2 linked regions of the Homo sapiens genome follow. The protein of the gene in region 2 purifies or fractionates together with the protein of the main gene of each other region. This does not show direct contact. Each region holds a gene or a part of one and is shown on either strand. Other genes may lie near its edges.

Region 1 (3,650 bases), on a different chromosome or scaffold from region 2:
AAAAGAAGCAAACACTACAAGATTTCCACCCAACTATCAAATGCTATGTCAGCTAAAGGATAAGAAAAAACTCCTTTAAGCATCAAGAAAAAAGATGAAGACTTGCAACAAATGACTTTATTAGTCATCATTTTCTTAACTCAGGTTAAAAAGTTACGCAGACCCTTGAAACAAACAGACATTAAATTTCAGAAAATAGGTTTAAGTGGCTCTTAAATTCTTTATTTCTACAAGAAAGAATTTGATTTTATGAGCTTAATGGAAGGTACTTACCTGCTTTCCATCTGTAATTCTCAATATTTAACTCATTTCAAGCCCTGCCCCTTTTCAAACTGTTTAATCCTATTATTTTCTGTTAGAGCCTGTAATTTCCAAAACACCAGCATTTAGATATCTTCAGAAGCTATTTTCACACAGTATTCCTAGAGATAAAATGATGAAAAAAATCAAAGTATCCCAGGAAGGCACCACAATGCACATTCCTGATTGTAAAACTGTTTCAAATTTTTTTCTAAAACCTTACACAGCAGCTTGAATATAACCACTATTCAGTGAATGTTTGCTGAACTGAGAATGTTTTTGCTAAACTCTATTTTGCTTTTTGACACATGAGAGAAGGCACTGTCTTTATACCAAAAAGAATCCACATTTCAGCACTGTGCATCAGAAATGCTTTGTCAAGCATATTTTCTCAATTCTCTCCAGAAGACTCCTACTTAAAAGTTGGCTGCATATTACAGTATATTTAACTGGGTGCTCTGAATTGCTCACTATACTTACAGAGGGAATGCACTTGTCGCCTCTCTGCAGTGATTACACAGAGATAAAAATGAATTAATTGAAATACATTTATTTAGCATGCAAAAACCAATTACTAACTCAAATTATGGATATTAAAACATCCACAGGAAACAAAATCCTAGAAGTGAATTATTACCTAAGAATTACCTTTAGGCTGGGTGCAGTGGCTCATGCCTGTAGTCCCAACACTGTGGTAGGGTGAGGAGGGTGGATCACCTGAGGTCAGGGGTTTGAGACCGGCCTGGCCAACATGGTGAAACCCCATCTCTACTAAAAATACAAAAATTAGCCGGGCATGGTGGCACATGCCTGTAATCTTAGCTCCTTGAGAGACTGAGGCAGGAGAATCCCTTGGACCCAGGAGGCGGAGGATGCAGTGAACCAAGATCGCACACTGCACTCCAGCCTGGGTGACAGAATGAGACTCCGTCTCAAAAAAAAAAAAATTACCTTTAAAAACTCTAAAATCTAAATTATAATTAAAGACTTTAATGTAAACAGTATAAAATAAGTCTTTTTCATTTCTTATCTTTGCCTGCCCTCTAATTATAGTTTACAAAATCAAATAACTGTCACATCATAACCCCAATTCAAAAAATGAAGTTCATTTTCTCATTTCTTCTAAAAGTAGTATCCAGCCTTCCCAGTTCCACAAGTAGACAATGTCCTTCTTAGACAAACAGTTCCTTTTTCTTTTACATTTAATATATTTCTTTATTGATTATATCATATCTGAAATTTCAATCACTTAGTTCTTAAAAGACATTTTAAGTTTTTTCTCATATTTCAATGCTTATTAAATGGGGAACACTGATAGTACTATTTACAGAGTGCAGAAAACTTTGAAAAATATTATTCTCAAACAATTCCTACTCACATCTCAGATTAACAACAATAGAAGATTCTTTGTGGAATTAATATTTTTACAATTTTAAGAAAAGTTTAGCAATAACTTAAGAAAGGTTTAGCAATAAAAAACCCTAATTAAAAGTTGAATATTAAGTAACATTTTTTAATTAAACAAACTCCCAATTTCAACAGTTATATAATTGAAGTCAATACCAAAATAATTTTTTAATTATGACTATAGATCTTTAGACATTATTTTGGGAAGAAAGTATCGGAAAATGAGAACATATGTTCAAATCCAGTGCTAGTTTCTTCAATACCAAGGAGGGTAATTACCAATCTTTTCACTGTAACAATTTAACATGTTTAATTTTACAAATCCAGATTCTCATAACTTATATTAATTTTTTAAAATTAAATTCAAATCACTTAAAACTAACTATAAGCATTTTTACAAGAATTTCACCACACCCTTTGAGCTTACATGGCTGAATCCCAGGGAGCTTGAAAGCTGAGGCATTTTCTGATTACTTTGGCTTTCCATAAAGAATAAGCATTATACCAACAGACAATTCCACAGCTCACAAAAACACTGGAGTCAGGAAATTTATATGAAATGACAGCTTAGTATGCTATTGCACATAATTACAGGAAAGTTTTCATTCATGCGTACATTCATTCAATAAACATTTACTGAGACACCTGCCTTTTATCAGCCACTGCCCTTGAGAAGTTCATTATCTAAAGAACAATGATAAGTCATGTAATTACACATATTTTAGTATAACATGTAAGGTGATACAATGTGACATATACAAATTCCTCTGACCTACTCATTCTGATATATATATAACCTAGAACCCTGCTAACTTAAGTGTGGTCCATAAACCACCAGAATTGGCAACCCCCAGCAGCTAGTCAGAAACAGAGACTCTCAAGTTCCACCTCAAAATATATTGAATCACAATCACAGTTACCTGGAGAGCATTTTAACAAGCTCCCCAGATAATTCCAATGTACGTTTAAATTTTGAGAAGCAGTGAACTAGAACATAACTGAAAATCAGCAAAAACAATGTCATAGAGTCCACATACTTTTAAGATCTTCAAGGTCCATCCTGAGCCTTTTTAAGAATGTATATACAATTTCAACAAGTTCAATGGCTTAGTTTCACAGACTAGGAACAAATTGAGATACCACTGACAACAAAAAAAGAAAATAGGAAAAACTTATAAAAAGCAATCTCAAAAAGGGATAGCTGTGTCACTTAACATAGCAACAATTTGTCTAGATAGGCCCTAAAAGTCTCACCACATTACAATAACACAAAAGTAATCGATGTTCTCAAACATGCCTCCTGTATCTAGAACATAAATTCCCTGAGGACAGAGACCTAGTTCTATCCTTAAATTACACTTACATTTGTAAACTGAATGACTCAAGTCATTAAGATGAGTTTGAGCTAGGCAGTAAGATATATGATACATTTTAGAAAAAATTCCATCTGACAGAGTTAAAATAAAAACATTTACTCCAAAAAGAAAGAGAGATAAAGAAAGAGAGGGAGGGAGGGGGAGGGGAGAGAAAGACAGAGTAGAACACCCGGATGGATGGGGCACACCTGTAGTCCCCAGCTACTCAGGAGTATGAGGCCAGCCTGGGCAACATGGCGAGACCTCGTTTCTTCAACAAAACAAAACAAAACAAGAGTAAAGCATCCCCATTCTATAACCCATTCACCAAGCACTCTAAGAACAGAGCCTTTACTGAACCTCTGGCTCCCAATCCCAAAGTCTTCCTATTCAAATCCTCTTCTGGGGGGCTGATGAGAGTGCCAGGATAAAAAGGAGAAAGATTAGAAGAGGATGGAGGGAAAACAGAAATCACCGACCATGTTAGGGTTCCTCCATTCATGAAAATGAAACCAGCAAAAATACAAAGACACACCAAAGATACATCAATCCTACAAGAGAAAAAATGCTGTCTCTAGTAAACATTCA
Region 2 (3,750 bases):
CATGCCCCCTCCAGTTTGGGGGTCTAAACCGAACAGGAGAGGTGCAGGGGACCAGGAGGTGTCCTGGCACAAAGGTTCGGGGGTCTCCCTGGCAAGGGGTCCCAGGGCCTGGAGCCCGAGGCCCAGCCAAAAGCACACAGCATCAAAACATGTTTTTAGTGGGAAGCTCCAGGCCCTGCCCCTCCCCGGGGGCCTCGAGGTCGGGGAGCAGGTGGGCGTCTGTCTGCCTCCAGGTCATGGCAGTGCAGGCGGTGAGCTGGGGGCCGGCAGGGGCGCGGACAGTGCGGCGTGGTCGAACAGAGGGTTGCGCACCTCCATTTCCCCGGTCTGCGAATGTGGGTGTCAGGCTGGGCAGTGGGTGGGCTGGGGGGATACTTGCTGGGAGGGAACCCCAGGAGATGGTTCGCCCCTCCCTGCACCCTGAGGCACTCACCGGGGCCAGGCCCGGGCACTCGTACACCGTGAAGTCTCCGTCCTCATTCTCCTCATCCGAGGAGGCCGTGTCCAGCTCCTTGGGTGGCTCTTTATGCCTGGGTGGGGGGGGATCGCTGGGTCCTCCCCATGCCCTCGAGGTGCCAGTGGCCCAGTCTGGAAGTGGGCACTCAGCCCACCTCAGCCCTGGGGTGGCAGGGGAGCACAGCCCAGGGTGAAGTTGGCCAGGGGAGGTGAGGGTGCAGGGCGGCGGGGGAGGTGAAGGTTAGCGTGCAGGTGAGGGTGGCAGGGCCTGGGGTAAAGTTGGCCAGGGGAGGTGGAAATGGAGGTGGAGGTGGGGATGGGGGGTGGGTGGGTGGGGGTGGCAGTGCCGGGGCGGCCACTCACCGCTCCAGGCACAGCATCTGTTGCCGTTGGTGCTGGTAGTGGTACATCTCCGCGCTCTGTGCCAGCCGCTGGTCCCCAGGCTGTGGGAAGGAGGAGGCGAGGGTCAGTTGGCGGCCAGAGTTGGGCGGGAGCCTCAGGGCTGAAGGGGGCCACACACCGAGATCCGGGGAGCTGCAGGTGAGCCAGGGGCCTTCGCAGTGGCGTAGTCGGCCTTCTGAGTCAGGCGGATCTCACGCTGCAGCCTGTGGGGAGTGGGGCCTGAGACCTCTGAGCGTGTGGCACCCTCCCTGCCCTGCCCGCGGCCACTGGCTCACCTGCACCAGCAGAGGGAGGCTACGGAGAGGGCGGCTGCACCGGCCACACAGAACGCCAGGATCAGCACTGCAGGAGGGGGCGTGTGAGGGCGGCCTTCTGCAGGGCGCCCTGCTGCCCCTGCCCACCCCCGACCAAGACCTACCAAGGGCGAGGCCGTCGCCTTGCCCTCCCCGGGGCTCCAGGGGCGACATGTGCACCGGGTCGGATGACACAGGGGAGCCCAGGGAGGTGTGGGGCGTGGGCGTGGGGGTTCCTGGAGTGGAGGGGAGGCCCAGCTCCAGCCCCTGCCCCCGTGCCGAGAAGCCCAGGGTGGCTGCGAGAGAGGACAGGTTAGAATGAGAGCACTGGGCTAGGGACAGGGCCGTGGGGCAGGGGAAGCGGGGGTCTCACCAGGCTCCGGGAGCCGCTGTCGGTCCTTGGGTAGGGGCGGAGTTGAGTGTCCAGACTCCTTCCGGGCAAGCTCCTGGGCCAGGAAGTCAATCTCATCTTCCAGTCTGGGCTGGGGCCGGCCCCCGCCTGGGGAGGGTGAGGGGCCATCAGGTGGAGGGGTCCGTCCAGGAGGTAGCCCCAGGCCCGGCCTCCCCGCTTCTGGCAGGTTCCTCCCAGGAGCCTGAGGACTGGGTACACGCCTGGAGGCCCTCTCCCTCCCAGATTGCCATGGTGACAGCGCGGGCGCTTCCTGTGAGGGGCAGTGCTTCCCGGAAAGTGGAGGCAGGGCAAGGGAGGAGGCGCTAGGGAAACGTCCAAAGACCGGGCACGGGGAGGAAGGAGTGGGGTCTCTCGCCCCAACCCATGTCCATAAAGGGCTGGCCAGCACAGCCCCTTCTGCTTCCCCACCTCCAAGCACCTTCTCGGGTAGAGGGGCAGGGACTCCCCAAGGAGTGGGGGGAAGCCGAAGGAAGCCAAGCACCCGGGACCCCTCCCCAGGTCATTGGGAGAACGGGGGCAGCTGTCAGGGGTGGGGCTGGTGGCAGGGCTCCACCGGTACCCACTGTGGGCTGCACAGTCTGGGTGGACGCTCCCAGGTTGGCAGGAGGTGCATCCACACAGACCCTTACAGCCACTTCTCGGTGCTCCTCTCAACACCTCCTCCAGGAAGCCGCTGCTGCTCCCACCCCCAGCACCTCTGAGCAAAGCCCTCACCACACCTGAAGTCACTCAGTGACTGGCCATCCCGACAGATGCGGCTCAGGCTGGCGAGCGGGGCATCCCCAGCACCCAGCCAGTGCTGGCACCCTTCAACATTTGCCAACAGGCGGACAGGACAGTGAGTGGTGGAAAAGAGCAAGCTGCCTGGGGACGGGGAAGTGGGGGCCTGGAGGGCTTCTGGGCAGACCCTGCAGAGCCCAGGCCCGGGGAGAATGGGCCCTTCCTCTCCCGTGGCCATCCCAGCATTTCACATCGTGCAGCCCTTCTCCTGGGAGGGCCTGACTGCCCCAGGCCTGGGCCCACCTCCATTTGGAAAGGATGGGAGGCTTCGTGGAGAGTGAATGAGGATCTCCCAGGCCTTGGACCCAACACCCCACAAGGTCCAGGGGCCCCAAGACCACCTGGCACAGGCCTGGGCATTGAGGCTGCAGGCTGCTGCTTTTTTTTTTTTGAGGCGGAGTCTCGCTCTGCCGCCCAGGCTGGAGTGCAGTGGCGCGATCTCGGCTCACTGCAAGCTCTGCCTCCCGGGTTCACGCCATTCTCCTGCCTTAGCTTCCCGAGTAGCTGGGACTACAGGCGCCCGCCGCCACGCCCGGCTAATTTTGTTTTTGTATTTTTAGTACAGATGGGGTTTCACCGTGTTAGCCAGGATGGTCTCGATCTCCTGACCTTATGATGTGCCCGCCTCGGCCTCCCAAAGTGCTGGGATTACAGGCGTGAGCCACTGCTCCCGGCCTTCTTTTTTTTTTTTTTTTTTTTTGAGACAGAGTCTCGCACTGTCGCCCAGGCTGGAGTGCAGTGGTGAATCGGCTCACTGCAAGCTCCGCCTCCCGGGTTAAAGCAATTCTCCTGCCTCAGCCTCCTGAGTAGCTGGGACTACAGGTGTGTGCCACCACACCCGGCTACTTTGTATTTTTAGTAGAGACGGGGTTTCACCATGTTGGCCAGGCTGGTCTTGAACTCCTGACCTCATGAGATCCAACAGCCTGGGCCTCCCACAGTGCTGGGATTACAGGCATGAGCCACCGCGCCCAGCCGGCCGCTTCTTACAGGGAGAGGTTCATGCAGGGACATCCCCCCATCGACTTCCCCCTTTGCTCTCGTACCTGGAGGCCGGCGCATCCTGGGCACACAGAGCCCTTGCTGGTCCTCCTGGAAGGGCTGAAGGCAGGGCCCACAGGCATGTGCACCAGGAGGACACCTTGCCCGCCTCTTCAGGGCACAGTCCAGGCTCCCGGGACAGGCGGCTACATCTGGGAAGGAAGCAGAAGGCAGGGCCGGCTCACGGCCCCGCAGGGCTCGGCCCCTGCACACGGCAGCGCTGCCCCAGCCACCCGCCCCCGTCACCCCCCGAGCTGGCCGGGCCTGGTTCTGGCCATTGTTCTGGACATGCCCTTCCTCCCTGACGCCAGGGCTCAGAACCCGGAAGCGAACAGTCCTAGGACTTATCAGAACTACCCTGCCCCA

What was found. The genes of interacting proteins can lie anywhere in the genome.
Region 1: the proteins of NPDC1 (region 2) and TBC1D23 purify together in Homo sapiens (affinity purification with mass spectrometry; 3 studies listed by BioGRID and IntAct, with this or other methods). This does not show direct contact.

What each region holds. Positions count from the first base shown.
Region 1 is NC_000003.12:100,263,872-100,267,521, reverse strand, and holds part of TBC1D23 (TBC1 domain family member 23), read right to left. Parts: intron 1-3,650. UniProt on the Homo sapiens protein: Putative Rab GTPase-activating protein which plays a role in vesicular trafficking. Involved in endosome-to-Golgi trafficking.
Region 2 is NC_000009.12:137,039,538-137,043,287, forward strand, and holds part of NPDC1 (neural proliferation differentiation and control protein 1 precursor), read right to left. Parts: intron 3,537-3,750; coding exon 3,390-3,536; intron 1,651-3,389; coding exon 1,525-1,650; intron 1,448-1,524; coding exon 1,277-1,447; intron 1,201-1,276; coding exon 1,134-1,200; intron 1,062-1,133; coding exon 977-1,061; intron 900-976; coding exon 820-899; intron 531-819; coding exon 434-530; intron 328-433; coding exon 235-327; 3' UTR 1-234. UniProt on the Homo sapiens protein: Suppresses oncogenic transformation in neural and non-neural cells and down-regulates neural cell proliferation. Might be involved in transcriptional regulation.